4 linked regions of the Homo sapiens genome follow. The protein of the gene in region 3 interacts with the protein of the main gene of each other region in a pairwise test. Each region holds a gene or a part of one and is shown on either strand. Other genes may lie near its edges. The genes, in order: SERTAD2, NDUFB7, CTNNA3 and KATNAL1.

What was found.
Region 1: the proteins of CTNNA3 (region 3) and SERTAD2 interact in binary tests that used the Homo sapiens proteins (3 or more experiments, as listed by UniProt).
Region 2: the proteins of CTNNA3 (region 3) and NDUFB7 interact in binary tests that used the Homo sapiens proteins (3 or more experiments, as listed by UniProt).
Region 4: the proteins of CTNNA3 (region 3) and KATNAL1 interact in binary tests that used the Homo sapiens proteins (3 or more experiments, as listed by UniProt).

Annotation. Positions count from the first base shown.
Region 1 is NC_000002.12:64,630,318-64,637,910, forward strand, and holds the end of SERTAD2 (SERTA domain-containing protein 2), read right to left. Parts: exon of another isoform or gene 6,607-7,593; intron 6,559-6,606; 5' UTR 6,555-6,558; coding exon 5,610-6,554; 3' UTR 1,304-5,609; downstream 1-1,303. UniProt on the Homo sapiens protein: Acts at E2F-responsive promoters as coregulator to integrate signals provided by PHD- and/or bromodomain-containing transcription factors.
Region 2 is NC_000019.10:14,565,531-14,570,819, reverse strand, and holds the end of NDUFB7 (NADH dehydrogenase [ubiquinone] 1 beta subcomplex subunit 7), read left to right. Parts: intron 1-2,718; exon of another isoform or gene 2,719-2,794; intron 2,795-3,886; coding exon 3,887-4,055; intron 4,056-4,554; coding exon 4,555-4,687; 3' UTR 4,688-4,742; downstream 4,743-5,289. Other genes in the region: TECR (very-long-chain enoyl-CoA reductase), read right to left, coding at 4,949-5,076, 5,157-5,202. UniProt on the Homo sapiens protein: Accessory subunit of the mitochondrial membrane respiratory chain NADH dehydrogenase (Complex I), that is believed not to be involved in catalysis. Complex I functions in the transfer of electrons from NADH to the respiratory chain.
Region 3 is NC_000010.11:67,686,196-67,693,381, forward strand, and holds part of CTNNA3 (catenin alpha-3), read right to left. Parts: intron 1-7,186. UniProt on the Homo sapiens protein: May be involved in formation of stretch-resistant cell-cell adhesion complexes.
Region 4 is NC_000013.11:30,303,808-30,312,742, forward strand, and holds the start of KATNAL1 (katanin p60 ATPase-containing subunit A-like 1), read right to left. Parts: upstream 3,745-8,935; 5' UTR 3,524-3,744; intron 3,205-3,523; exon of another isoform or gene 3,133-3,204; intron 3,050-3,132; exon of another isoform or gene 2,872-3,049; intron 1-2,871. UniProt on the Homo sapiens protein: Regulates microtubule dynamics in Sertoli cells, a process that is essential for spermiogenesis and male fertility. Severs microtubules in an ATP-dependent manner, promoting rapid reorganization of cellular microtubule arrays.

The sequences.
Region 1 (7,593 bases), on a different chromosome or scaffold from region 3:
GTCTGTCCCATGCCTCTCTCCTGCCTTCTGGTGGTTTGCTGGTATCTTTGGCACTCCTTGGTTTGTAGATCCACCGCCCCAGTCTCTGCCTTCACTGTCACATGGCCTTCTCCATGTATGCATGTATGTGTTCAAATATCTTTTTATAAGGACATTAGCCACTGAATTAGGGCCCACACTAATAACCTCATTTTAACCTAATTACCTCTATAAAGACCCCACTTCCAAATTAAAGTCACATTCTGAGGTACTGAAACCTACCTTTTTGGGGGAAACAATTCAGCCCCTAACACCTCCCCAGCACTTCACACCCCACCTCACATTCCACTGCTGATTGAGCTGAACCTTCACTTCCCAGGTCTCACACATCCATCCCTTTTCCCTTGCCAGTGGTGTGGTGGCCCAACCACACCAAAATAAAAAACTGCCTAGGCCAGGTGAGGCCAGATCCCATGACTCCATCCAAGACAGCCCAGTGGCCAAGGAGGTTGCACAGGGTCTCCCCCACTCCCCACTGGAAGACAGCAGGGGCAGGGTCCAGATGGTATAATCAGTGGGTACACCTGGAGGACGTGCAACAACCACGTGACCCACTGGCATTTTAGAATGTCAACTCCAGCATCAGGGATGGTAGAGAGACGATCACAGCAGGAAGACTAGTCAGGAAACAGGTACGGCGGTCAGAGGCAAGGAGAGAGAAAGGGTCCGAGCTGGGGACGCTATGGTGAGGATGGAGAGGTGGTGGCAGAGGGAATGACATGGCTGGGACTGCGGAACAGGGTGCAAGGGTGGGCAACTGAGCCAAGCGTGGAGCAGAGTGCTGAAGACAACGAGCCCACAGAAGAATCAGCCCCCAGGGGAAACGAGAGCTCTTTAGACGCGCTGAGAGTGAGGGAGCAAATCTTGGTAGATACTGAAGTCTGGAGCTCAGGAGAGAGGCAGGGGCTGGAGACCAGTTTTGAGAGTCCTGAGTGGATTAGATCACCTTGGGAAAGCAAGAGGCAGCAGGAATGGAGGCTCAGTGAAGTGCAGTCATGGGCCAAACCCTGGAAAAGACAATGTTTTAAAGAGAGCTGGGGCACAGATGTGAGAAAAAGGAGGTCCAGAAGGGTCCAAGAAGCAGGAGGAGAACCAGGAGAGAAGGGTGGTTCCTGAGACCAGGACGGTTCAGGAAGACCAACAGCACGCACTCCTTCGGGGCCCCCCTGCTGCTCTCTCTTGCTGGACTTTGCTTAATGTGAGCAAACTGTCACAAATAAGCTGATTGAGCTCCCATCAAAAGAAAACTGCAAGCATGCCTCTCTCATCTTTTAACTGTTTATTGTATAATATAAAACTACAAAAGTAAGACTGCTCATTTCCATGTACATTTAATCTGTCCAATTGTTTAGATTACAGCCCAAACCTACATGTGAATACAGCCATCTGGGTTCCGATGTAACGTCTGTAATATTGCATAGAAAAGGCACAGCTCTCAGGTCTGTGGGGGAAAGGTTATACCTCCTTTTTGACAAAAGCCCTCCTCAAAAACCATGCACCAAACATGTCACTATGTACATCTTTTTTCAAAATCTCGGTCATGCGCACATATGGCCTGCATTTCTCTTCCAAAACTTGTTATCCCCAAAAGAAGTCCAACTTTTTATTGGCTTTGTCTGCAATAGCATTTGATCCTGGCTAATTTTCAAGAACCATTCAGACTCATTCTTAGAAACACTGAAAACAATTGTACATAAGCAGGATGCACACAACTCCATGCCTCCAGGTGCGGGGCAGTTACAGGAAGGTAACCATTTACAGCCAGAAAAGGTTAAATATACTCTTTTCATTGTTTTCAGAAAATGTATAAAGGTCCAATTTGTAACAGCAAGGTTTTCAAATTAAGACAATTCGTATAGAGTAGCAATTGCTGCACGAAGTAGAGTCTTTTTTTTTTTTTTTTTTACATTTGTCATTTAAGAAGGCTGCCCTGCGGTATTCATAATTCATTGTTTACCACAAAGGTGGTTCATAAATTTAAGCTTTAAAAACGATCTGTAAGTTGATACTTTGGCTCTTTGGAGCTTATTTCATTAAGAAATTTTCCTTGATTGACCTCAGGGCAGCTGGGGCACTCCAAGGGGCTATGGCGATAAAAAGCTCAATTGGTAAAGACACTCGAGAGGTGCAGAGGAGGCTCTGGCCACTGCTCACCCTTTGGTATGAACAAGGGTGCCCATGTGGTTGCTCCTTCTGTCATCCAGAGAAAGTGCTACTAAAAAAACTTTAAAAAATATCAACCCTTTGATGCTTTTCTTAAAAATTTGGAGGTATTAAAACATTCCTCATACCTTTTGCATATTTCAAATAGACCCATATTAGAGAAGAGTAAAAATGAATGCGGACTGTGCATACAATGAGAAGACCTGGGGGCCTGGCTTGGACCCCCTTTTAATACAGATTTACATTCCTACAAGAGAATACATTCCTACCATACATTCTGCACATGTTACGATCCAGATGTTAGCGCTCCACAGTAAAATAAATATATTTACACAGAAAAAAGGAATAAATAACTTATGGGGGGAAAAAAACTCACTTCAAATTCAAAGCTCTTACGATTCTGCTCTCATCTTGTCACTTCATTGCACATCAGTGTCAATAACTGTCCTCTCCCAGCCCCAGCTCGGTTTTCTCGTAAAGGCACCTCAAGCTGCCTGCCTGGCCCTGGATGCCATGTGATGTCTTTCATAAAGGGAAGGCACTGCTGGAAGCACATCCCACACTCAAACTGGGACTTGGAGATCCCACTCCAGCTCCTACTGTTCCCTGTTGGGACATCACTTTGTAAGAATAGGATGCAAAAGCAATTAGAACCCTAGATCATTTTGATCTTTCTGAAAATGGGCTGCTAATTTTCCATGTCTTTCTTGTTAGACTTTGAGTATCAGGGATTTATGGCAACGGTGTCAGAGTTAAAAAGCATTTGCCTGCTGTTTTTGGGGTTTTTGTTTTGATTTTGAAGCCCAGCCTTACAAATACATAAGAGTCAGAGAACCAAGTTTGGGCAACACTTCTCCGTGCTTATTTGAACTGTTGCCCAACATATGGGATTTGTTTAAACACATGATTTGCTAATCCAACAAAAGTACAGTTGTTGTAAGTTACTGTAAATCAGTTTTTAACAATGGCAAACCAACTGTTTTACCCTGTTATTGTTCAGAATCATCAATACTATTGTATATGTGTACGTAGGTAGATGTGTGCAGCATGCGGCAGGTTTGCCAGGTCCTCCAGTTATAGAAAGCATGGAATCTGGGCAGACTTGTTCTCTGCAAGAAAGGGAAGCTCTTAAAATTAACAGGCATACTGACACTGGAAGCATCTACTACAACCCTCACCTCAGTTACATGGTCCCTGGTCCTATTAAAGGAAATGACACACCTGTAGCAGTACGAGGTGTCTGCGTGGAGGTTGCTTGTAGGAGAACAAGTGCAATTTGATCAGTTTCTCACTGCTCTACTGAGCTGATAATTAGCCTTTAAAACACATTCAAGTGGGGGGAAAAAGTAAATTAGAATGTAGAAAGCCTTTATCATATCATACTCAAATCTTTTGCTTAGATGAGCAGTTCCTTCATCACAAACGTCTTTGCTTTGCCATGTGCATTACAAAAATAAAACTAACTATGGCTTGCTTAAAGTGCCATTTTATAAAGTTGTCTTTTTTAATTAGCCAGAAAGACCCAATTTTATCCATGGCAAGAAGTGAGCAGAATTGGTGACTGAATATTGACAAATGACCAACAACAAAGACAACAACAACAACAAAACATCCCATAATTTAAAAATTTTTAAATAAATATAAAAGTTATTCCTAAAGAAGCCATCTGCATAACAATATAGGTTGTAACCTGCACTCAACAGCTAAAGTACCATTGGAAGAAAAGAAAAAACTGAAACAAGAAGGCCATAAACAGTTTCGGCAACAAGCATGATACATTGCAACCTTTTTAAAATTAAATGTACACCACTAGGAATAAAAAGCTACTTCTCAAGTGTGTCCTGGGAGATAAGGTGATGGGGGGGGGAATTGGGGGGAGGAGGGAAAACATGCATAGAAAGTCCTGTCTGAGTTTTGGGGTAAAACAGCCTTGACAAGTGTGAAGTAGCTGACTCAGGAAAGCAACCAGATGGGAAGCTGTGACGTAATGTGATGAACTCCAGGTTCAAGAGTCACACATGTTGTAAGAGTGCATCCCGGGCCGGCCGAGGCGAGCCAAGCTCACTGTGGTGATCACGAAGATGCCATTTTCAGCTCTTAGCAACACAGGGAAAGCTCTAGGGAAAGGAAGCTGCAGAAGACAATTAAGCAACATGATGGATGCCTTCTGGGGAGATTTTCTTCTTTAAGGGCCCTAAGCATTGCAACAGGGCTGAGTTCCATGAAGAAGTTGGTTGCTTTTCGGATGTAAAATTTTGTTCGGATGTAAAATTTCAGGTCATCATAAAAATTATGCCAAAAAGGAAAGATCTGGGTTTTCATTAAAAAACAAAATAAAAACAATTAAAAGCGCAAACTTGGCATAAATACACTCTTAAGAAAGACAGTAGCTTTACCCTCAAAAGAGGGAGCAAAAGAGAACCATCACTTAAACCCCCAGCTCCACAGCCATCTCCCGCCAACTGCTTAATGCAAGTTTGATGAGCACATGTGGCTCTGGCTTTGGAAGTCACAGTACTGGCGGGTGTTGGTGCCAGGGGGTCAGTGCTTGTGAAATTTGGGTGTGATATCACCTGGCCCTTTCTTAAAGCACTGTGTGTGTGTTTATGGGTGTGTGCATGTGTGTGCCTGTGTTTGCATTTGGGGACATCAACTGCAGATTGATTTGATCCAATTTTCTCTTGCACCATACACATATAAAACATTACAACTCTATAAAAGTACAAGTGCAACTTGTACATCTGAAGTTTGCAGGAACTATGTGAGCAAATCCTATCAAAATAGCTATCTCATATGTATAAACAGCATTTGTTTTTAGAAAAACAATATCATAAACTGCAGAATCTGTACAAAAATATAAAATAAATTTGGGCAGCAGTTTTCTAAACAGCCATGTAAATGCAACACTTACGAGGAGTAGTTAATGCCTCTAAAAAGGCCGAATTGCCAAGTCAACCTATACAGGGCAAAAATGCCAGAAAAGGTACTGAGATTATCTAAATAAGATATATATATATAGTTTTCTTCTTTACCTCTTGCAATAAAACTTATAGAAAAAATAGACAAATATGCACATGCAATTTACAGCTTTTCCAACTTAATCCTTGTGCTTCACTTGAACTGTTTATTTTTGTCATTCAACATTGCAACATTGTCTTCAAATGGATTCTTTCCTATACCAGGGTAGTAGGTCTCTGAGGAACCACTCAAAAAAGTGTATTAAAAGTGGTCATACTTGGATGAAGGCACTCCAACTCTGCTCAAAGCAAAAACTAGTGTGATCCTGTTGTAAAATTTTCTTTTTCTCTGAAAAAGGCAAGCAAGGGTGCATGCACAGTGTGGAGAACTGTCAGGGTTATGGGAACGCTCTGGGGTCTGGGTGGGCATAGTCGCTGGGTCCCTGGGTCTTAGGACCCAACAAGCACCTCCATGATGTGGTCCAGCTCTGTGAGGTCCATTTTGAAAGGCTGACTTGGGGTGACAGGCTGACTGCTGTAAGGAGCCAGAGTTTTGAGGAGGTCGTCGGCAGACACAGGGGCCATTTTTGAGGCTGTCCCTGATGAGGAAGTGCAGGGGTCAAAATCATACATGGACGTATCAATGTCAGCAAACAGGATGTCATCCAGGGTCAAGTCTGTCAGGAAACCCGTGGACGTCGTTATTTCAAAATTCCCAGGCAGAGAGTCCATCAGTTTTGAGTCATCTGCGCGGCTCTCTTGAGGACCGTCGAGTTTCTGGGTGCCAGCCTCGCTGGAGGTCCCTTTCACACTGTCAGTCGCAGCCGTGGCCGCCTCTGTGGAGGTAGATGTGGGACAGAGCTCCTCGATCTCGTCCAAGGCAGAGGAGAAACTGTCCTTTTCTGGCAAGAGGGCTGGAGGTGACAGTTTGGTGGGAGCCGTGGGCTGCATGGCCTGGGAGGTGCAAAACGTGTCATCGTCGTCCTCGAGCAGTGAGGCCGGGGTGAGGCAGGCCTCCAGGGGCGTAGTGCTTCCGAGGTCGCAGGGGTGGGAGGACGGGGACGCCAGGTGGCTGAAGGCCGGCGGGGCCTCTCGGTAGCTGTCGCTGGGCTCGGTGGTGGGCTGGGAGGAGGGGGTGAACATGGGCCTCAGGCTGCCTTCCTGTTTGAGTTCCTCCTGGATCCGCCTCAACATGTTGTTAATTAAAACGGTCTTTTGCAAGCTGGGCTCTGTCAGGGGCCTGTGGTTATAGAGTTTCATAAGGGAAATGTTGAAGATAGTCTGGCGCTGTAAGGTGTAAGACACCTTGGATGGACCGTCACAGGGAGACACGATTTTGCCTTCCAGCCCATCTTCATGCTCATCAAACTTCCGTTTTCCTCCTTTACCCAACATATATCTGCAGAGGGGAGAGAGAGGAAATGGCATTAATCACATGAAAGCTGATTTCTCCCATAAAAAAAGAGACTGATTTAGAGGGCAGGACTTGGACCTCAGTTTCCTGCCCAGGGTTATTTACAAGTACACGTGGATTAATTAGGGGTGGGAGGAAGGAAGACCTTTTACAATAAGAGAGAGTTAGAAAATCCACCTTTGTATGCCTGTGGAGCAATTTTTATCACTAGGTAGTCTGGTGAGTGTATTTCTTGAGAAATGTGTACGACACAGACAAGTTAAGAATTACCATGGAAACCATGATTTTGACTTTCTCAGCTCATGTGCTTGTGTTCGCATGCCTAAGATTATCATGCAGGTTCGATTTCCCTCCCCCACGTAGATTTATTTTTAAAGCCCAAGAAAACACTTACAATGCTATGACCTAAACAGATACAGGTGTCATAGATTACAGCTTGAGCACTTCTTAAAGGATTAAAAGAACCAAGTTAAAGAAAGGTAACATGTATAATTTGGGTAGAACTGTGTGTGCTTTCAAAATGCTTTTCCTTCCTCATTAAGCACGGAGTCTTTCTGCCTGGTTGGGGACATGTGGTGAAGCACTGCACCTGTGTTAAATGACCACAGTGACTGAGCCGCCGCCACTTTTCATTTAGAATCAAGGGGAGGAATGCGTATGTCCCAGCCTAAGTTCTTCCTTGGCTCAACTTCATCCACACACAGTTATGTTTGAAGACAACTGGATTAATTTTGAAGTAATTAGCTCTGATTATAAGCATTGCTGTTTGGGTACTCGAGACATTTCCTAACAAACTACCTCCTGTGATTCCAGAGATACATGCATATTTTGAGGAAACCATGACCTCATATCTCAGACCCTGAGAATCTGGTAATGGGTTGAATTTTAAAACTGCAGCCAGGAACTCCTGCCCCATCTTGCCTGCTGCTCACAGGCCAGGCTGTGTCCTCTCTTGCTCTGGCCTTAGTGAATACATTTTATCAACTGGTTGTCACCTTCTGGGGAGTGGGCCTTCCAACT
Region 2 (5,289 bases), on a different chromosome or scaffold from region 3:
CCGAGCACCAGCTCTGGGCCACGTCCCACATTAGGCACCGCGGATACAGCAGGGAACTGGAGGGATGCAGGCACTGTCTCCAGAGAACTCAGCACAGTGGGAAAGATTGTGGAATCAGGCAGAGCTGGGGGTGTCAAAGCAGGCTTCCAAGAGGCAGTGGCTGGAAACAAAGACGTGAAGGGTGGCCGGTCGTGGTGGCTCATGCCTGTAATCCCAGCACTTTGGGAGGCTAAGGCGGGCAGATCACCTGGGGTCAGGAGTTTGAGACCAGCCTGGCCAACATGGTGAAACACCATCTCTACTAAAAATATAAAAATTGAGGCCGGGCATGGTGTCTCACACCCATAATCCCAGCACTTTGGGAGGCCGAGGCGGGCAGATCACGAGGTCAGGGGATTGAGACCATCCTGGCCAATGTGGTGAAACCCTGTCTCTACTAAAAATACAAAAATTAGCCAGGGGCGTGGTGGTGCACACCTGTAGTCCCAGCTACTCAGGAGGCTGAGGCAGGAGAATCGCTTGAACCCAGGAGGCAGAGGTTATAGTGAGCCGAGATCACACCACTGCACTCCAGCCTGGGCGACAGAGCAAGACTCCATCTCAAAAACAAAATACAAAAATTAAGCCGGGCACGGTGGCTTATGCCTGTAATCCCAGCACTTTGGGAGGCCAAGGCCGGTGGATCACCTGAGGTCAGGAGTTTGAGACCAGCCTGGCCAACATGGTGAAACCCCGTCTCTACTCTACTAAAAATACAAAAATTAGCCAGGTGTGGTGGCGCATGCCTGTAATCCCAGCTGTCTGGGAGGCTGAGGCAGGAGAATTGGCTGGAACCCAGGAGGCAGAGGTTGCAGTGAACCAAGGTCAGGCCACCACACTCCAGCCTGGGTGACAGAGCGAGACTGTCTGAAAAAACAAAACAAAACAAAACAAAGATGTGAAGGGGCATGAGTAGGGGTTGACCAAAGAGAGGTGGCAGAGCCAAGCTTCTAAGCAGAGGAGGGACACAATCAGTTTTGGTTGGTCAAAAGGTCACACTGTCTACTGAGTGGGCGACAAGCTTGAGACAGAGACCTCTAAGCAGCCTGGATTTGAGAGAAAGTTGGGAGATGGTATAATCACTCCAGTGTCCACACTCCGGGTAGTCCTTCCGCCCCAGCTGAACCTGCAGTTCATTGGTCCGTCCACCTTCCTCCCACTGCCTCACATACCTTGCTTTCCCCAAGATCAGCTTTGCAAACGCTAGCAACCTGCTGCCCTTCTCTCTTGCTTACTCTGGATAAACTCACCTCTTTCCCTTCCTTGGTGCCTATCCCCGTGCAACTGAACATAATGGGGGGCGGGGAGATAAGAAAAAAACAGCTCTAAGCCAGGCAAAATGGCTCATGCCTGTAATCCCAACGGTTTGGGAGGCAAAGGCAGGAGGATTGCTCAAGGCCAGAAGTTCAAGAACAGCCTGGGCAACATAGCAAGGCCCTGTCTCTACAATTTTTTATTTTTATTTTTTAATTAGCTGGGTGTGGTGGCGCATTCCTGCAGTCCCTGCTGACCGGTCTCCCGATTGGTACTCCAGTGGACTCTTTATGGTGCCTGGCCTTTCTCTTACCTCCCGGATCCTTCACTCTCTCCCTCCCTCCTAGATCACTGTCCCCTGCCCTCTCTTTCCTCCTTTCCACCCCCTTTCAGCCAGTCACTTTGCTCACTGCAACATCTGCCTTCCCGGTTCAAGCGATTCTCCCGCCTCAGCCTCCCGAGTAGCTGGGATTACAGGTGCGTGCCACCACACCTGACTCATTTTTGTATTTTTAGTAGAGACAGGGTTTTACCATGTTGGCCAGGCTGATCTCGAACTTCTGACCTCAAGTGATCCACCTGCCTCGGCCTCCCAAAGTGCTGGGTTTACAGGCGTGAGCCACCGCGCCTGGCCCATATTTATTTATTTGTTTGTAGAGATGGGCTCTCGCTCTGTTGCTTAGGCTGGAGTGCAGTGGGGTGGTTATCACCCACTGCAGCCTCAAACTCCTGGGTTCAAGCGATCCTCCCGAGTAGCTCTGGATACTCCGTGTGCACTACCGTGCAAAGATAATTTTATTTTTTTCTGGACATGGGATCTTTCTGTGCTCCCCAGGCTGGTCTCCCTAATACTTAAGCACTGCCAGACACGCTGTGGTGCTCTGTCTTCTGTCTGTTCTGTGTCTCCCTCTGAGGGCAGGGACACTTGTGTGTTGTGTTGCCTGCTGTATCCCCACCACTAAGCACACAGTAGGCAGTCTAAAGTCCTTGCTGCTAGCTGATTATAAGTTCAAGACAAAAGAGGGAGGAGTCTAGGATTGCCACCTGGAGCTCCAAGTGCAGATAGGGAACAGCCAGGGGCTGCAGGTGATACCCAGGCCTGGGGCTCAAGCGAGGTGTGGGGTGGAGGGACCACATCGGGCTCATCTACATACGGGGCGGCAGCAGAGAAAAAGGCTCTCAGGCCGGGCACAGTGGCTCACACCTGTAATCCCAGCACTTTGGGAGGCCAAGGTGGGTGGATCACCTGAGGTCAGGAGTTCAAGACCAGCCTGACTAACATGGCGAAACCCCATCTCTACTAAAAATACAAAAATTAGTCGGGCATGGTGGCAGGCGCCTGTAGTTCCAGCTACTCAGGAAGCTGAGGCAGGAGAATTGCTTGAACCTGGGAGACAGGGGTTGCAGTGAGCTGAGATCTTGCCACTGCCCTCCAGCCTGGGTGACAGAGTGAGACTCCATCTCAAAAGAAAAGAAAAAGGCTCCCAGAACAAAGCGTAAGGTAAGGCAGCCATAGAGATGGGAGGAAACCTGGGGAGGAGGGATGTGGGAGGAGCCACAGGAAAGAAGGAAGCGGGAGGCTGGGGTCCTGGGCTGTTGGGTGGCCCTGTGAGAGCCCGTGTCTGGGCAGTGAGGGGGTAGGGCAGAAGCCAGGGAATGGGACAAGGGGCAGGAGAGGAGGACCTGGGCCTCAGTGGGATGAGAGAATCGCAGCTGGGAAGCAAAGGGGAGAGAAGCCAGCAGGGGACGACTGCCATTGAGATGTGAATATATCTCGTCTCACTTGCGCAGATGGGAAGGAGCTGGGACCGAGAAAGATGTGGTGGACGTCAGGAGGGCTAGGGAGGCTGGGTCTGAGGGAGGCGGTGGGGAACGAGTGCAGGATCGCCAGGCACAGGCTCCGGGGTGAGTGTCCAGGATTCCTCATGCTCCCATCGGCCCCCTCCTGAAGGTTGATTTGTCCGGAGTCAGGTTTGCTAGGTGAGTGGGGCACCGGGACCCAGATACTAGTCCAGCTGTCTTCTGAGCCCACGCCTAAGTACCTTACAGGTACTGTTAGCTCAGTGGATGCTCGGGTAACTTCCATGACCGGATGGTCAGTTCTGAGGCTGAGAGAGAGGCCACGCCGCCGGCCAGTGCAGAGCTGGGCCTTGGGTGGGTTGCAGACAAGAAAGGCTGGGAGTGCTGCCTGGAGCCCCAGGTGCAGGTGGAGGGGCTGAGGGTTACTCTGGGAGAAGGTGGATTCTGAACTCGGACTCTGGAGAGCGGGGCTGTAGAGAGCTGGGGACGGGCATCCCTGTGGGAGGGGAGGCAAGGATCCGGCACGGGATGTTGAGGTGCCTCAGGGTGATGGGGAGCCACCTTCTCCTGTCTGGCCCTTGGTGTCTGGAGTTGCCTTTGTGCAAATTAGAAAAGGAGGCCCCTTCAGGACAGTGCATCCGTCAAAGGCATCTGCCATCCACTGCCATCTGGATGTGAATGGGGGACACCCCAAGCCGTGCCTTCCTGAAGCCGTGTGCCTCGGTCCCCTGGGGATCCCCGGAATTGGGGTGGGGAGCCTCCAGCCTGGTTGAGCCCCGCCCACTCCCTGCAGAGATGGTGGCCACACAGCAGGAGATGATGGACGCGCAGCTGAGGCTCCAGCTGCGGGACTACTGCGCCCACCACCTCATCCGGCTGCTCAAGTGCAAGCGTGACAGCTTCCCCAACTTCCTGGCCTGCAAGCAGGAGCGGCACGACTGGGACTACTGCGAGCACCGCGAGTGAGCACCCCCACACCAGCCCCCAACACCCCGGCCCGCAACACCCCATACCCCCAGCCTTCCACACCCCTGGCCCACCCAAGCCCCCCACATGCCCAGCCCGCCCAAGCCCCCCTCCCACCCCCGCCAACACCCACAGCCTGCACCCCACCCAGGCCTGGCCCCTGGCAGGATGTGGCTCCAGAGGCCAGGGACCTGAACTGCCACTGAGGTTTCTAGCCGGGCCCCACCTTAGTCCCAGAGAGGGCTCTCTAGGGGCCTGTTTGATGGGGACAGGGCAGGTGGCTGAAGCCACCTAGGGGAGTGGCCAAGCCCAGGTTCCAGTGGGAAGCCCTGCCACCTGCGTGGGCAGACCCCAGACCCAAGCCACAGGCACTCGGACATGTCTTCTTCAGAGGCCTCCCCCACAGTGCTCTGGGACGGCCCCTCCGCTTCCCAGGGCTTGGGGGGCGTGTCCTGGCCAGGGACCCTGACAGCCCCTCTCGTGCTTTTCCCCCAGCTATGTGATGCGCATGAAGGAGTTTGAGCGGGAGCGGAGGCTGCTCCAGCGGAAGAAGCGGCGGGAGAAGAAGGCGGCAGAGTTGGCCAAAGGCCAGGGACCCGGGGAAGTGGACCCCAAGGTGGCCCTGTAGGGGGTGCACCCCCCACCCTATGGACCAGTCAAATAAAAGCCTTCAGGCCCCTCAACCAGAGTCCCCTCTTACTGCTCCGACGCGAGAGTGGGGAGAGAGTGAAGGGCAGTGTGGTGGTCCCCAACCCCGGAAAGAAACACACAGAGCCCGAGTCCGACTGGGGCAGGCGGGCTTTATTCCGGGTGCTGGAGAGCTGTGGGCCCCACTCCTCCCCCAGAATGCCACCGGGTTGAGGGGCTGAGCCTCAGCAGGGGTGAGCGCTCAGAGCAGGAAGGGGATGATGGGCATGCGCAGGGGCGGGTAGTCCCGGAACTCCTTCAGGTAGCTGCGGTGCTTGCCCTTGGCCCAGATGGTCATCTGGGTGAAGCCCACCAGGGAGAACAGGGCCACTGCAGGAAAGAACGGGCGTCAGGGAGGGGCTGCCGGCCCGGAGGGGCAGGGCCCCGCCGAGGGAGGGCGGCAGGCTCACCTGGGAGACACTGCGTCATGATGGCGAAACCGATCCAGGACCCCACCTGTGGGCAGGGGCGGAGAGTGAGCGTGGGCAGCCTCGCAACCCGTGTATGTGGCTGTCCTGGACTCAGCCAGCCACCTCCCGCCGC
Region 3 (7,186 bases):
TCCCTTTCCCAGTTCTAAGGCTTGGGTAAGTGCCACTAGTTCTGCTAACTGGGTGCTGGTCCCTGGGGGAAGAGGCTTAGTTTCAAGTACTGTTACTATGGCATAACCTGCCCTTCGTATCCCATTCTCCACAAATGAACTTTCATCGGTATATAGGTTAAGGTCAGGATTAGCTAAGGGGACTTCTAAGAGATCATCTTGGGTGGCATAAGTCTGGACTATAACCTGTTGGTAGCCATGCTTGACCAGCTCCTCATCCTCTGGTAGAAAAGTGGCAGGGCTGAGGGCCACACATGTATGCACTTGAAGCACTGGTCCCTCAAGGAGTAGCGCCTGGTATCTAAGCAGGCGGTTGTCTGATAACCATAAACTTCCTTTGGCACCTAGTATGCCATTTACATTGTGAGTAGTCCAGACAGTGAGATCCTTTCCTTGTATTATTTTGATAGCCTCTGACACTAAGACAGCCACCGCCACAACTACCTGTAAACAGTGAGGCCAGACTTTTGCTACTATATCAATTTCCTTACTTAGGTATGTCACTGATTGTGGGGTTGTCCCATGAGTCTGAGTAAGGACCCCAAGAGCTATTCCTGCTCTCTTTGTGATGTATAAAGAAAAGTTTTGTCCTGTGGGAAGGCTTAAGGATGGACCTTGAGTTTGTTCCTTCCAATGCCCAGACTTCAGGGTTGATTCCCTCCTCAAGCAGGGGACAACAAATGGGTAACTTGTTCCCCATATTCATAGATAATAGCTCCAGCTTTGGCTAATATGTCCCTCCCTAATAAGGGTGTGGGACTTTCAGACACAACAAGAAAGGCATGTGAAAAGAGCAAAGTCTCCCAGTTACAACTGAGGAGGTGGGAGAAATACCTGGTTACAGGCCATCCCAGGATTCCTCAGATGGTAACGGACCTTGAGGACAGCTGTCCAGGACAGGAGATTAACACTGAGAAGGCCATGCCAGTGTCCAGGAGGAAATCAATTTCCTGGCCCTCAATGGTTAAACATACCCGGGGCTCAGTGAGGGTGATGACATGAGCTGGCACTTGCCCCGGGCATCCTCAGTCCTGTTGTTGGATCATCTGGTTGGGGGCTTCTGGCCCAGAGAACCATTGTACTCTGGGGCAGTGAGCCTTCCAGTGATTGCCTCCGCATAGTGGACATGGGTGAGGGAGCAGCTTATTTCTAGTAGGACAATCTTTTTTAAAGTGTCCTTGCAAACCATACTGAATACAAGCCCTACCAGGTGATTGACCTGCTCTATTTTCTGTCCTCTCTGAACCACCAAGGTTTGTTTGTCTGAGGGCCATGACTAAGGCTGTGGCCTTTCTCTGATCTTGCTTTTCTTTTTGGGCCTGTTTCTCTTGGTCCCTATTATAGAACACCGAGGTTGCCAGGTTTAATAATGCCTCCAGATTTTGTTCAGGGCGCAAGGCTCGCTTTTGGAGCTTTCTCCTGATATCTGTGGCTGATTAGGTAATAAACTTATCTTTTAGAATCAATTGACCCTCGAGTGGGTCGGGTGACAGGAGAGTATATTTTCTTAAGGCCTCCCATAGCTGTTCGAGGAAGGCAGAAGGATTTTCTTCCTTTCCCTGAGTTACGGTGGACATCATTGAATAATTCACAGGCTTTTTCCTAATTCTCCTTAGTCCTTCTAAAACACAGGTCAACAGATGTTTGCAACTCCAGTCCCCATGATCTGAGTCGAGGTCCCAGTGGGGATCCATACTGGGGATGGCTTGCTGACCAGTAGGGAATTTGCCCCTTTCTTCGACTGTCATTCTATCATTTACTTGACTAAGATACCAGGTATCTCCAAACTCTCGGGCTGCAACTAAAGCCACATTCTTTTCATTAAAGGCCAGAGTTTGACCTAATAGCATGATATCTCTCCAAGTGAGGTCAAAGGTTTGCCCTAGACCCTGTAAGACATCTATATACCTAACAGGATCATCTGAAAACTTCCCCAGATCTGCCTTGATCTGCTTTAAATCAGAGAGGGAGAAGGGGACATGTACCCGGGTTGGGCCAAATTCCCCTCCCCCTACAGCTTGAAGGGGACATAAATGATAGCTCAGGGGTTTTTGTGGTCCTTTGGAGATTTCTTTGTTTGTTTCCTTCTGGGTGGGGGAGATTAGAGGAGGCTTATCATTAATAGGAAGGGGAGCTATAGGGAGGCTAGGATATGGAGGTAAGCTGAGAGGTCCTCCTGTGGGATGTAAATTGCAAGTTTTGCATAGTTGTGTATTCTCCTTCAATGAAAAGAAAGCTTGGACATAAGGTATTTCACTCCATTTGCCTTCCTTCTTACAGAAAAAGTCAAGCTGCAGGATAGGATTGTACTTTATACTTCCTTCAGGTGGCCATCTTTCCCATCAGAGAGAGAATATTGGGGCCAGGCCATAGTGCAGAAAAAAGTTAGCTGCCTCTTTTTCAGGGTTTGCAGGTCAAATTGGTCCCAATGGCTTAGGATGCATTTCAAGGGTGAGCCTGTTGATGCCTGAGTGTTTCCCATCTGAAAGACAAAACCACCCTTGGTCTTGGTTTGTTTCTACCCCTCCCCAAGAACCCACAATAGTCCCTGGACCCTGCTGATTGGAATAGTTGCACTTACTGATGCAGCAACAGAAACACCTCTTGCCCAAGAACCCGCAACGGTCCCTGGACCCTGCTGATCAGAATAGTTGTGCTCACCGACGCAGCATCAGAAACACTAGTTTTCCTCTTAGACCAAAAAGAGGACCGAGGAAGGTCAGATTTAGTGGCCCTTACTGATGCATTCTCAAAAACCTGCATTCTTGCCTGTCCTCTTAGACCACAAAGAGGACCAAGAAAAATTGGATTTAGTGGCCCTTACCGATGCATTCTCAAAAAGCTGTTAGAGTCCTAAGCATTATCCTGTTAGTATTGGGACCTTACCACTGTCCTATAAAGATGTTATGCCCCAAAAATGAACTGGACGGACATACCCTGAGAGAGGGAAAGGATCTCCAGAGTTGGAAGAGTGATGCTTTTTGTCCTCACTTATATGAATAGGAAAGATACCATTTCCGAAGCTCCCCATATCCTAGCTTCAGGAATAGCTTTTGTTAGGCCTGCTTGTCTGAAGAGGGATCCTAAAATTCCAGATAGTCCCTTGCCCAGATGGGACTTTGGGCAAAAATTATGTCTTTCTGATTGGTGAGCCCGGGTGCCTAAAGAAGGTAAAAGAGTCCTGAAGTTTATACTAGAAATCATTCTTATAGGAGAAACTAGAAAAGCACCAGAGACAGGGAGTGCTTTTTAGAAGTGGACTAGCCTCAGAGAAGAGAGGCGAGAGGAAGTTTGTCTGACAGGCATTAGGACCCAGGAGGCAAGGGTCAGGAGATAGGATAGATGGGCAAGTCTCGCTTGGGTGACATGATTTTGAGAGTTCCACTCATGGCCGCAGGGTCAACCAACTTGTTGTTGGGACCCCGGAGCTGAATGGCTTTCCTCTCTGTCAACCCTCGGCTCAGCCTGGAAGTACCATTAAAGTGGAAGCTGGCTCCAGGCAAACCAACATTCCCAACTCCATAGAGTCAGGGATTGTTAGAGAGCCCTATCCCAGAAAGCCTGGCACCTGTGTCTTTAGTCCAGCGGCCGCGCTAGTTGCTTTTAGCTGACCGACAGGTGCCCAGTATTTACCCCCAGAATTCTAAGGAAAAACAGGACAGAATAGCAAGCAAAAGGGGTCTGATGGTACTCATCACTTGGCAATAGGCGAGAGTCCCATCTGGGTTGCCAAAATGTGTCCAGAATTGGTTGCTTCTGGTGGGTTCTTGGTCTCGCTGACTTCAAGAATGAAGCCGCAGACCCCACGGTGACTGTTACCACTCTTAAAGATGGTGTGTCTGGAGTTTATTCCTTCAGATGTTCATATGTGTCCGGAGTTACTCCCTTCCGGTGGGTTCGTGGTCTTGCTGACTTCAGGAGTGAAGCCACAGACCTTCACAGTGAGTGTTACGGCTCTTAAAGGCAGCACGTCTGGAGTTGTTTGTTCCTCCCAGTGGGTTCATGATCTGGCTGACTTCAGGAATGAAGCCACAGACCCTCACGGTGAGTGTTACAGCTCATAAAGGTAGTGCGGACCCAAAGAGTGAGCAGCAGCAAGATTTATTATGAAGAGTGAAAGAACAAAGCTTCCACAGTGTGGAAGGGGACCCGAGCAGGTTGCCACTGCTGGCTCAGGTAGCCAGCTTTTATTCTCTTATTTGGCCCCCACCATGTCCTGCTGATTGGTCCATTTTACAGAGTGCTGATTGGTCCATTTTACAGAGTGACTGGTTCTGTTTTTACAGAGTCCTGATTGGTGCATTTACAAACCTTTAGCTAGACACAGAGCGCTGATTGGTGCATTTTTGCAGAGTGCTGATTGGTGCGTTTACAAACCTTTAGCTAGACTAGACACAGAGCACTGATTGGTGCATTTACAATCCCTTAGCTATTCAGAAAAGTTCTCCAAGTCCCCACCTGACCCTGAAGCCTAGCCAGCTTCACCTCTCAAGAGGAGATAAATGTTTATACAGTGTAACTTAAGCAACGCTACTCAAACTGCAGGTCTGCGATGAGAAAAGGAGCTTGTACCAGAATGTAAGTTAATGAGTGCTTCCTTCATCTAGAAAGTCTTGCTACAGCCTCTCCCTCTCCCTCTCCGTCTCTGTCTCCCTCTCCCCACGGTCTCCCTCTCCCTCTCTTTCCACGGTCTCCCTCTGATGCCGAGCCGAAGCTGGACGGTACTGCTGCCATCTCGGCTCACTGCAACCTCCCTGCCTGATTCTCCTGCCTCAGCCTGCCGAGTGCCTGCGATTGCAGGCGCGCGCCGCCACGCCTGACTGGTTTTCGTATTTTTTTGGTGGAGACGGGGTTTCACTGTGTCGGCCGGGCTGGTCTCCAGCTCCCAACCACGAGTGATCCACCAGCCTCGGCCTCCCAAGGTGCTGGGATTGCAGATGGAGTCTCGTTCACTCAGTGCTCAATGGTGCCCAGGCTGGAGTGCAGTGGCATGATCTCGGCTCACTACAACCTCCACCTCCCAGCAGCCTGCCTTGGCCTCCCAAAGTGCCGAGATTGCAGCCTCTGCCTGGCCACCACCCCGTCTGGGAAGTGAGGAGCATCTCCGCCTGGCCGCCCATCATCTGGGATGTGAGGAGCCCCTCTGCCTGGCTGCCCAGTCTGGAAAGTGAGGAGCGTCTCTGCCTGGCCGCCATCCCATCTAGGAAGTGAGGAGCGCCTCTTCCCGGCCACCATCACATCTGGGAAGTGAGGAGCGTCTCTGCCCGGCCGCCCATCGTCTGAGATGTGGGGAGCACCTCTGCCCTGCCGCCCCGTCCGGGATGTGAGGAGCGTCTCTGCCCGGTCGCCCCGTCTGAGAAGTGAGGAGACCCTCTGCCTGGCAACCGCCCCGTCTGAGAAGTGAGGAGCCCCTCCGCCCGGCAGCCGCCCCATCTGAGAAGTGAGGAGCCCCTCCACCCAGCAGCCACCCCGTCTGGGAAGTGAGGAGTGTCTCCGCCCGGCAGCCACCTCGTCCGGGAGGGAGGTGGGGGGGTCAGCCCCCCGCCTGGCCAGCCGCCCCGTCCAGGAGGTGAGGGGCGCCTCTGCCCGGCCGCCCCTACTGGGAAGTGAGGAGCCCCTCTGCCTGGCCAGCTGCCCCGTCCGGGAGGGAGGTGGGGGGGTCAGCCCCCCGCCCGGCCAGCCACCCCGTCCGGGAGGGAGGGAGGTAGGGGGGTCAGCCCCCCACCCGGCCAGCCGCCCCATCCGGGAAGTGAGGGGCGCCTCTGCCCGGCCGCCCCTACTGGGAAGTGAGGAGCCCCTCTGCCCGGCCAGCCGCCCCGTCCGGGAGGGAGGTGGGGGGGTCAGCCCCCCGCCCGGCCAGCTGCCCCCTCCGGGAGGGAGGTGGGGGGTCAGCCCCCTGCCCGGCCAGCCGCCCCCTCTGGGAGGTGAGGGGTGCCTCTGCCCGGCCGCCCCTACTGGGAAGTGAGGAGCCCCTCTGCCCGGCCACCACCCCGTCTGGGAGGTGTACCCAACAGCTCATTGAGAACGGGCCATGATGACAATGGCGGTTTTGTGGAATAGAAAGGGGGGAAAGGTGGGGGAAAGATTGAGAAATCGGATGGTTGCCGTGTCTGTGTAGAAAGAGGTAGACATGGGAGACTTTTCATTTTGTTCTGTACTAAGAAAAATTCTTCTGCCTTGGGATCCTGTTGATCTGTGACCTTACCCCCAACCCTGTGCTCTCTGAAACATGTGCTGTATCCACTCAGGGTTGAATGGATTAAGGGCGGTGCAAGATGTGCTTTGTTAAACAGATGCTTGAAGGCAGCATGCTCCTTAAGAGTCATCACCACTCCCTAATCTCAAGTACCCAGGGACACAAACACTGCGGAAGGCCGCAGGGTCCTCTGCCTAGGAAAACCAGAGACCTTTGTTCACTTGTTTATCTGCTGACCTTCCCTCCACTATTGTCCTGTGACCCTGCCAAATCCCCCTCTGCGAGAAACACCCAAGAATGATCAATAAAAAAAAAAAAAAAAAAAAAAGTCTTGCTACAAAGTGCTTAGGGTGTAGCTGATTTACTTTCAGGCACAAGCCTCTTATCTCGTTTCATAGATTAGTTAAAAATTGGGAACTTCTAATTACATTTTGAACAGTGCTAATTTAAAGTAGGGGCCTCCATTGTTCAAGTTCCAGTATTTGAGAGACTTTCTTTGCACTAAACATTGCCTTCTCCTTCAAATCAATTTCCCCATTGCCAGGAGGCATCTGAAGCAGAAAATCATCCTGGTTAGGATAATGAAAGGCAAAGAAAAGAGGTGGGGAGGGTGCCAAATAAACTTGACCTAATCTTCCATTTTGCACACAGGAACTCAAAGTCACCTATCATATGCTAGAAGCTAGTGATTAAATTGGTTACAGATTACTCGCTGAATCCCAGGCAAAAATAATGTGGTTAAAAACAGTATTTAAGCATGTGAAAAATCAGATGTATCGGCTAACAGTCCTGTTCACCTTCAAAAATTCTGCAGCCTCAATTATCTGTCACTTTCCATTAGATTTGCAACTTTGCTAAACTCCGGAGTTCCACCCCGCTGTACCATCTCACTTAAAATCCAGTATCCAAACAAGAATCAGAAAATCACACTTTTTAAATCTCTAGACTAGC
Region 4 (8,935 bases), on a different chromosome or scaffold from region 3:
TTAACGGAAGCTTCATTTTAAAAAATTGATTAGTCCTCAGACTCTAATCATCACTTTGTAATATAACTACTACCTGATCCACCTGCTTAATATGGTCAAGTAAAGTCTAGAACAGGGCCTTTCTATCAGACAGAACTGGCAGTCCTGCCACACTGTTAGTAAGGAAGTGGGAGAAGAAATGCTTTCAGTTGTTGAGCACTTTAGGGTTTACCTCCACTAAACTGTTTCAACTTCCCAAAATCAAATAAATAGTATTAACACCTCATATGAAATAAGGGTACAGATTTGGAGACCTGCCTATGATCATGCAGAAAATAAGTTGGAGACACAAAATTAGACAACTTACTTTCTTTCCTTATTTTCCCCTCCTTTGTTATGCTCTCTCCCAGTTCTTCTTCCTCTATGCCTCCTAACTAGGGTCTCATTTGTAGGCTCCTCCCGCAAACACATACACACAACTCTTTTTTTTTTTTTTTTTCCTGACACGGAGTCTCGCTCTGTCACCAGGCTGGAGTGCAGCAGCATGATCTTGGCTCACTGCAACCTCTGCCTCCTGGGTTCAAGCTATTCTCCTGCCTCAGCCTCCTGAGTAGCTGGGACTATAGGTGTGCGCCACCATGTCTAGCTAATTTTTATATTTTTAGGAGAAACGAGGTTTCACCATCTTGGCCAGGATGGTCTCGATCTCTTGATCTCCTGATCTGCCCGCCTCAGCCTTCCAAAGTGCTGGGATTACAGGCGCGAGCCACTGCGCCCGGCCTACACACATTTCTTAAATGAGAGTTCCATATCCAAACCTCTTCCTTTTTCTTTTCTACTCATTACTCCAATGTGAGCTGGTCCATTCTCCCTTGTAGCTTTAATTACTTATCTATATGCAAACTTCTAACTCCAGCCTGCTCTCTCTGAACTCCAGACTAAAATGCACCTCCACCTGAATATCCCATAGGAACCTCTAACAAATGCTCAAAACTCAACTAATATCTTTATATTTCACCCCAATAAAAACCAGCTCCTCCTCATCTCAATCAACGGATTCACTATTACCTCAGTCATGCTAGCCAGAAACTGAGGAATCAATCAGCTAAGAGTTCCAAATCTAACTCCCAACATCCAAACTCTTATCAAGTCATATCAATTTTATCTCTTAAATATTCCTTGAATCCATGTCTTTCTGTAACTCCAAATGCTTAATTCAGACTCTCTTCACTTCTCTACTGGACTTTGTTTTTTTCTATTATACAACTGGCTTTTCTACTACCTGTAATGTTTCCCCTCCCAGGTCCATTCTCTACACTGGGGCTGGAGTTATCTTTCTAAAATACAAATCTGACGCCACCACCACTCTAGCTAAAATTCTTCAATGACTGCCCTATATCAAGAAAAATTCTAAACTCTGAATATGGTGCCAAGTACTTTAAGATCTGGCCTCACCCACTAATTGCAAGTATTCTGGGATCCAGTCATTCAGAACTACCTAGCGTTTCCCAAATACAAAATACTGATTCTTCAATCTATCCTTTGCTTATTTTGTGCCATCCATTTGTCCTAGAATGACTTTCCTCATCATCACTCCAGTGAAAGCTTATTCAACTATTTTAACACAAGTTAAAAGTCAAATCACACTGAAGGCCTCCCCTGACTTCCTTAGACAGAGTCAGGATCTTTCTACTAAATGACAGAGAATGGTCAGTGCTTGAGATCAGGACCAGACCCACCTGGGCTGAAATCCCAGGTTCACACGTTACCAGCTATGATTTTGAGCAAGGCCTCTAAAGCCTGTTTCCTCATCTCTAAAAATCAGTAACTACTTCACCAACTGTTTTGAGGATTAAGTAAGGAGTTGCATGCAAAATACTCCTCACAGCACCTGACATATTCAATAAATGTTACTGTTATGTGATTATTTCCTCTGGGCTCCTAGAGCAACTTGCACTTATCTCTACCACACTACTGTGATGACAAGACTGCCCATGCAGGATACAGACTATCTTTTTTCATCTCTTTATTCTCACCACCTGGCATAATGCCTGGCACATAGGTTCCTAACACATTTTGAATGAATAAATAAAATACTTCAAACCTTATGTTGTATCACATAAGGCCTCAATTTTGTTTTCTACCTGTCTTACTAAACCTACTTTCCATCTCCTCCTTGTACAAAATTGCAACCTCAAGTAAAATTTACACAGGTCAACTTCATTTTAATTAAGAGAAAGTTTTATAGGATTTGTGGTCTTTTTGTTTTTAAACACACACACACACAAACTCACAATAATATCAACAATTCTCCAACTTACTCCATAAAGCAGCAAATTTCTAGGATGGTTATCTACCTATTAAAAAATTTTAAAGGGTCGTCAAGGAAGGTTTCGTAAATCTGTGTCAGCTTCCTTTACCAGCAAGTCTTTGAGTCAACTCTAAGGACTCAAGTGTACTCCTGAACATAAAAAATATATAAAGAATTAACTAAATAATTAAAACATGGTATTTTTCCTTCCGAAAACATGCTGAGAAATTCTGAATAACACTGGAATAATCAAAGAATTATTGCTGCCTACTGCTAAAAAAGTCTGTTTTTAAAAGTTACTAGTAATTTAAAGCTGAACTAATCAAAATATGTGTAGGCAGTGTTCAGGCTGGCAAGGGGGGGGTGGGGTGGAGCACTCATTTCACAACCTTGAACCTCAAGAAATAAAATTCAAAAATGCAAAAAGTTAAAAATGCCAGATACCACCATATAATCGCAATGACATCTTTTTATCTATTTCCACACTTAACCTTTAAACATTACTGCCCTTTGAGTAATTACCAATTGATGGGTTTAATATGCAAACACCTCTGAGCTACTTTAAAACAAACATGACTAACCCAGAAATAAACGTATCCAGGAAAGGAGAAAAACCTGTTAAAACACGGTTTCTCAGGTCTCACATCCAATGTGTGACATACATACGGTTCTGCACCGAAAGGCAGCAACCTGCGAGGGTCAGAGGCGCCGAAGACCCGAGGCCCTGCAGCTTGGGCGGCTGCTCATCCCTGAGACTGTGCAGGGCGGTGGCCCAGCCGGGGTGGGGCTGAGCGCTGCAACTGGGGCGGGCCCAGCTACAGGGCGGGAAGCCCGAGGCTCACCTCCACTTCCCTTTCCCAACGCACAGAGCCCAGGTCCGCGACCACTCAACAGCCCCCTCAAGACAAAGAGAGATTTTTTTTTCTGTCCCGGTCCGCTCAAAGTTTATCGGTCTTTCCCGGCGGTCGGGGCCGCCGGGCTTTGTAGTTCGCCAGTCCGAGCTACCCCACCAAGACCGCGAGCCCGAGGAGTCGCTGAACTACAATTCCCATGATGCACCGCGAGCCTGGCGCTCCCGCGCCCCTCCCCGTCCCCGCACGGGAGCCAGCGCCCGAGGAACCCCGCAGCCCACTGCCCTGGCGTCTCCGGCAGTGGGAGGCCGAGAGGGGCTGTTGGCTAGAGCCCTCCACCACCTGCTGTCTCGCCCTCGCCCCTTTCTCTCGGATTCATTACCCAGAAGGCGCAGGTCCGGGCACATTCAGCGATGCGGTCCAGATGGGGTGCGGGTGGGGCGCAGGCCGCCGCCGCCGCCGCCGCCGAGTCCGTTAGCTCGCGACGTGCGTGAAAAGGCGGCGGCGGCGTAGTGTTGCCATGGCAGCCGCGGCCGCGCGGTGGGCGCAGCGCGGGAGGGAGCGCGGGGGCTGTGAGTCCGCTCTGGGGCGGAGCTTGGGACTCCCGCCCAGGTTGCCGGGGGGAGGGAGGTGCAGCGGCGCGGGGTGGGAGAGCAGGGAGACAGTGACATTGAGGAGGACGTGTGGCCGACTGAGCTCTGGTCGTGCTTGATGAGCCTGCCTCCACTGCGTCCAGCCCCCGTGGCAGGGCACCTTCGTGCCTGCTGCTTTCGGAGGTGATGCCAGTGGCGTCGAAGGAGGGGGCACCCGGGGCGTCGCAGCGCCTTTCCCGCCGCCTGTCCAGGCGTCCGCCGCTGGGTCTGCCCCCAAGGGATGTGTGGATCCTACGCCACCTCTGTGTTTTTCTCCAGTCAAACCGAATTGAAGTCTTTCGCACCCCCTTTCTCCATTCTCTGGGGAGGGGGATAGAAGGGAATCCTTCGATAAGATGGAATGCATATGGCCTTTAGGATTATTCAGGAGGTTTTAGAATTTGCAAATGGCATTGCTTTCGACTGAATTTGGATTTATGCTGTTTCTTGGCAATCGTTTGTGGACTCTAGGATAAACAGGTTAAGAGCGTGGGCTTCTAAAACGAATTCTTAGTTCACGTCCTGCCCCTGTGCTTGGTAGCTGATGACCAGAGGCGCCTTTCTCACCTCTTAACGTTTTGATCTGCAAAAATGGAGATATCCATCTTGCAACTCTTGTAAGAAATACACGCATTAATACTGATGAAGCTCTATAAAACAAAGCTTAGCATTTAACAATAGCTATTAAATATTAATTATTTAATCAATAGTGATAAAAGTCAGAATAGTGGTTGGCTGTCGGGGAGGAGTTTGAGAGAATTTTTTGTAGTGATGAAAAAATTCTATAGCTAAGAGTTTCGGTTACAGAAGTATATGCACTTGTCAAAACTCTTGGAATGGGACATTTAAGATTTGTACATTTCACTGCATGTAAATTTACCTCAAAAGAGAACATAAAAATGTGTTGTTATTATTATTAGAGCTATAGACTCTAATGGAAACTACAGAGATATTCTAGGCCCAATCTCTAGATTTTATAGATGGGAAAACTGAGGCCCAGAAATTTAATAGAAAAAAAGAGGAAGGGGAGTGAATTCGTGACCTTGTCATTTTCTAGTAATGAATATCTCCTGAAAAATTATGGTTGAAAATAACAAAAATGGCTCCTGTAATCCAGCTGAGTCATCCTACCACAGAGATTTTCTTGAACTTGACTGAGTCCCTTATCCACCTTGTGGTGTTCCCCACGGCCAATGTCCTCTCAAGGATTGCACCGTCACTTCTGGCTCTCAGTTCTTGCTTTTCCTGAACACTTAGACCTCTCCACATATCACCTCTTACAACTCTCCTCTCTCTACTCCTGCTGACACATAATTTCGAAATCAGCCCCTTTTCTTTGGTTGTTTCTATAGCCAACTCTTTAGAAGGTTTGGAGCAGATAAGTGGTTTTAAATTAAGGATGCAAAAAACCTAAAATTAGAAATCCCTGCTCTTAAAAGTCCTTCAGTTCCTCCCATGATATTTTTATCCACCTACCACCTACCCCCATTTTTTCATCATAACCTGTAACCTCCCACTATTGTACCATCTTTCTGGTCCCATCTCTCCCCTCCTCTCCTCTCTTTATACAATACTTTTATTTCCATCTCCTAATCTGTGCCTTCATAGCTACCTGCCATTCCTAAACTGTTTACCAAAGTTTTTTCCTACACAAAGTAACTTCCCAAGAGGAACTCTGGAGCCAGCTATTAAAATAATATTTTTTCACATATGTATCCTCATATTCTATTTGATTCAGTCCACAGTGTAGCTGCTCAATAAATATTAAGCAGCTTACGTACATGACCTGTTGATATAGTTTGGCTGTGTCCCCACCCACCTCTCACTTTATTGTAATAATTCCCACCTGTCAAGGGCAGGGCCAGGTGGGGATAATTGAATCATGGGCGCGGTTTCACCCGTACTGTTCTTATGGTAGTGAATAAGTCTCATGAGATCTGATGGCTTTATAAATGGGAGTTCCCCTACACAAGCTCTTTTGCCTGCCACTGTGTAAGAAGCCCCTTTGCTCTTCCTTCATCTTCCGCCATGATTGTGAGGCCTCCCCAGCCATGTGGAACTGAGTCCATTAAAACTCTTTCCTTTATAAATTACCCTGTCTTGGTTATGTCTTTATTAGCAGCATGAAAACGGACTAATACACCTGTCCTGGCTACCTTCACAGTGGGTTCACTTATGAAACCCATTTTCTTACATCCATAATAATGGTTTACTCTAGTATAAATGAGGAAGCTATGTGATAATAGCTGGAATCTGCTGTCTAAGAGGAAGAAAAGAAACCAAAGTAACCATAGCTTGTACAGAAGAAATGACAGCACTTAAGAGATGAAGTCCGGAACAAAGTCTGGTATGAAGCCATAGGACATCCTTATAGGAACTTGGACCTGTCACCTGCAGCAATTTGGTCACAACTCTGCATATGTAATGAGCATGTAAATAAATTCTCCTTTACTCCTGGAGAAGATGTTACTGATCTGCTACCAGCTGAACACATGTTTGTAGTAGGGATGATAGGTTCACCGGATCCATCTCTCCCTGATCTGGTTTCCCTTGTGACCGATCACTTGTCTTTCTTTGCAAGGCAGCTGGCCAAGGTTGTAGTGCAGCCTACAGCCATGACGAAGTCTCCAAAGACAAGGTCCCAATGCATAACGCTCCTTGTTTTGTGAAGCCAGGATCCCAGAAAATCAGCTCAGCAGGACAGGCCACTTGAGAATGGATGACAGCAGCACAAACAAAAGCTGTCACAAAAGTGAGTTGGAGGTGGGCAGTCGCGGGAGGGAAGACCACAAGCCACTGAAGCACAGCCTTAAAATGCCTCGCATGGCTATGGACAGGTAGGAACGAATAAGGACCGATAGTAAACCATAGTTTATTGTTTTCACCAGATACTTTGGACCTGTTCAAGTGATAGTTAAACACCCTATACAAATCCAAAAGATGGAGCTGAAAGTAGTAGCACATTAATCCACACAGGCAGTGTGGTCAAGAGCCACCACCCTCATTTACAGCGCATCTGGTTTACAGTTGAGGTCTTTCCTCAGTTCTTAGAGTTCTTGGCCTCTCTGGCATTTGACTTTGCTGACTACCCTCCTTGGTGGGTCCTTGACCTTGGATCTCTTCAGAGCTTTCCAACCAGACTTCATTATGTTATTCACCAGCTCTTTTACCTGCTTCTTAAATGTGAGGATAGTTGCCAAGGTTCAGTCACTACACCTTTTCCATTTGCAAGCTTCCGCCTTGGCCGTGGGTGATGCTCCAATTTCTCTTGCTAGTTCTGATCCACAAGTTCCAGCACTGCACAAGCAGGCCCACTCTTCCTTAACTTGTTCTGTTACTTCTGTTCTCTTCGTCTAAGATACCAGCGCCTTACCCTATCTAAGGTCTACGTATTCTGAAAACAAACCTTCACATGAAACCTTTCCAGATCATTCCTGCTCAGTCATATCACCCTGCTCTGTGCTCAGAATATTTCCTGCCAATCTCACTCCCTTGACAGCTGACCATACTGCTGAGTGGCTGCTCAGTATTGTTTACTCATTGGCTTTTTGTCTTTTCTCACTATATTTCAAGCTCCTCCAACGTGTATTTCTGGGTATTCTCAAAAACACCTTCATAATACTCTACATATAATAAGGGCACAATAAATGTTTTTGATTGGTAGTTCTTTTATCTTTTCCCCTTAGCAAAACTTCCTTTATCTGGTAGCTCTCCCTCTTCTAGTACTATGCAGGACATTTGCAGCCTCTTGATATAAATTTCCCTGAAGCCTATAACTGTGGGCCCCCATACATATTCAGTGGAGGAGTACCTTGGGAGGTAATTCCTTAAGTCGCTGTTGCTGTGGAAGGAATTCAGTATGTAAGTAGCACTGAATTCCAACGTTCAGGCCCTCTTACCGTAAAGATCTAGAGCAGAGTTTTCCTCACTGTGGGTCACAGTCTATTAGTAGGTCATGAAGTCAATGTGATGGGTCTCTTCCGGCTTTGTCATATTTAAAAAGTGATAAGGTAAGGTAGTGTAGGGTAAAGTAGAATGCAATAGAATGCGGTAGAAAATGAAATCCAGAGGGTATGTGCATGGTTAGGGTCAAGTATCGTATGGCAGTTACTGAGCTGTCATCTTTCAGCTTCAAACCTACCCTCTGTCCTCTGCTTTGTGTTGGTGGGGCTAGAATTGTGCAAACCACATTTCTCCTCTGTCATCTGGGTGGAGAGGCTGGGGCAGCACAGCAGGACCAGAGGAAGAGCACAAGGCTGGAGGAGAGGGAAGCAACTTGCTCCTTCCTGACAGCCTGCTATGCTTGGCAGCATCACTCCTGCCACAGACTTTTAGCCTGGTGGCAGTTTTACTTGTCTCCAGCTTCTTATTGTATCTCAACCAGCCTCATCGCATCTCTTCTCCCTCCTCCCCAAAGCATTACCTGCAGCAGCAGCCAGACAGTGTCCCTCTTCAGGAGCCTGTGCCCCAGCTTCAACAGGCCTTTCCTACAAACCCCAACCTCCTCTCCTCCCTTTGATCTCCAGCCCTTCAGGCGGGAGCTGCTTCTTGCAGTTATAACCTATGTATTACTCCAGTGTTCCTTTTTTAATTTTTCAGTCCTTGAACATCTGTCTAATCAATTCCCTGTGCTAAATTCTTGCTCTTAAAATACCTACTTAAAGTTTCTTTTTTCCTGACTGAACCCTGACTAATATGGATTGTTAAGTAAGATGTACTTCCTGCCATAAGTGTCCATCAAAAGGGTTTAAGAAACACTGCTTTAGAGGATTGGGAGTTCTTAAATAGCCAGATGACCTGAGATGCAGCTAAGGGGCCAGTCCTAACATGTAGAGGTACTCTGGATTTCAGGTCCATGAAAAGCAAAGATCCTGTTCCACTATAGCAGTTGTCACTGTTGGACCCCAGTCACAGCCTGACCTGTAGGGATCACTAGCGGTGAGCCTGCAGTTGTCCATCAGAGTATGGCCTGAACCCATATGGAATCTGTCCTCTCTCAGATATGCAGAAATTCAGCTTCTTTACTTGTTACAGTTTTACTCGTTATTAGCAAGTGAGAGGAAGCAGAAAGTTAATGATGAAGAAAGCCGGGAACTACTACCAGAGACCTCATACAGTGAAATGGAACTTGACTGAGTGGAAGAGAAGGATTTAAAAGGTGG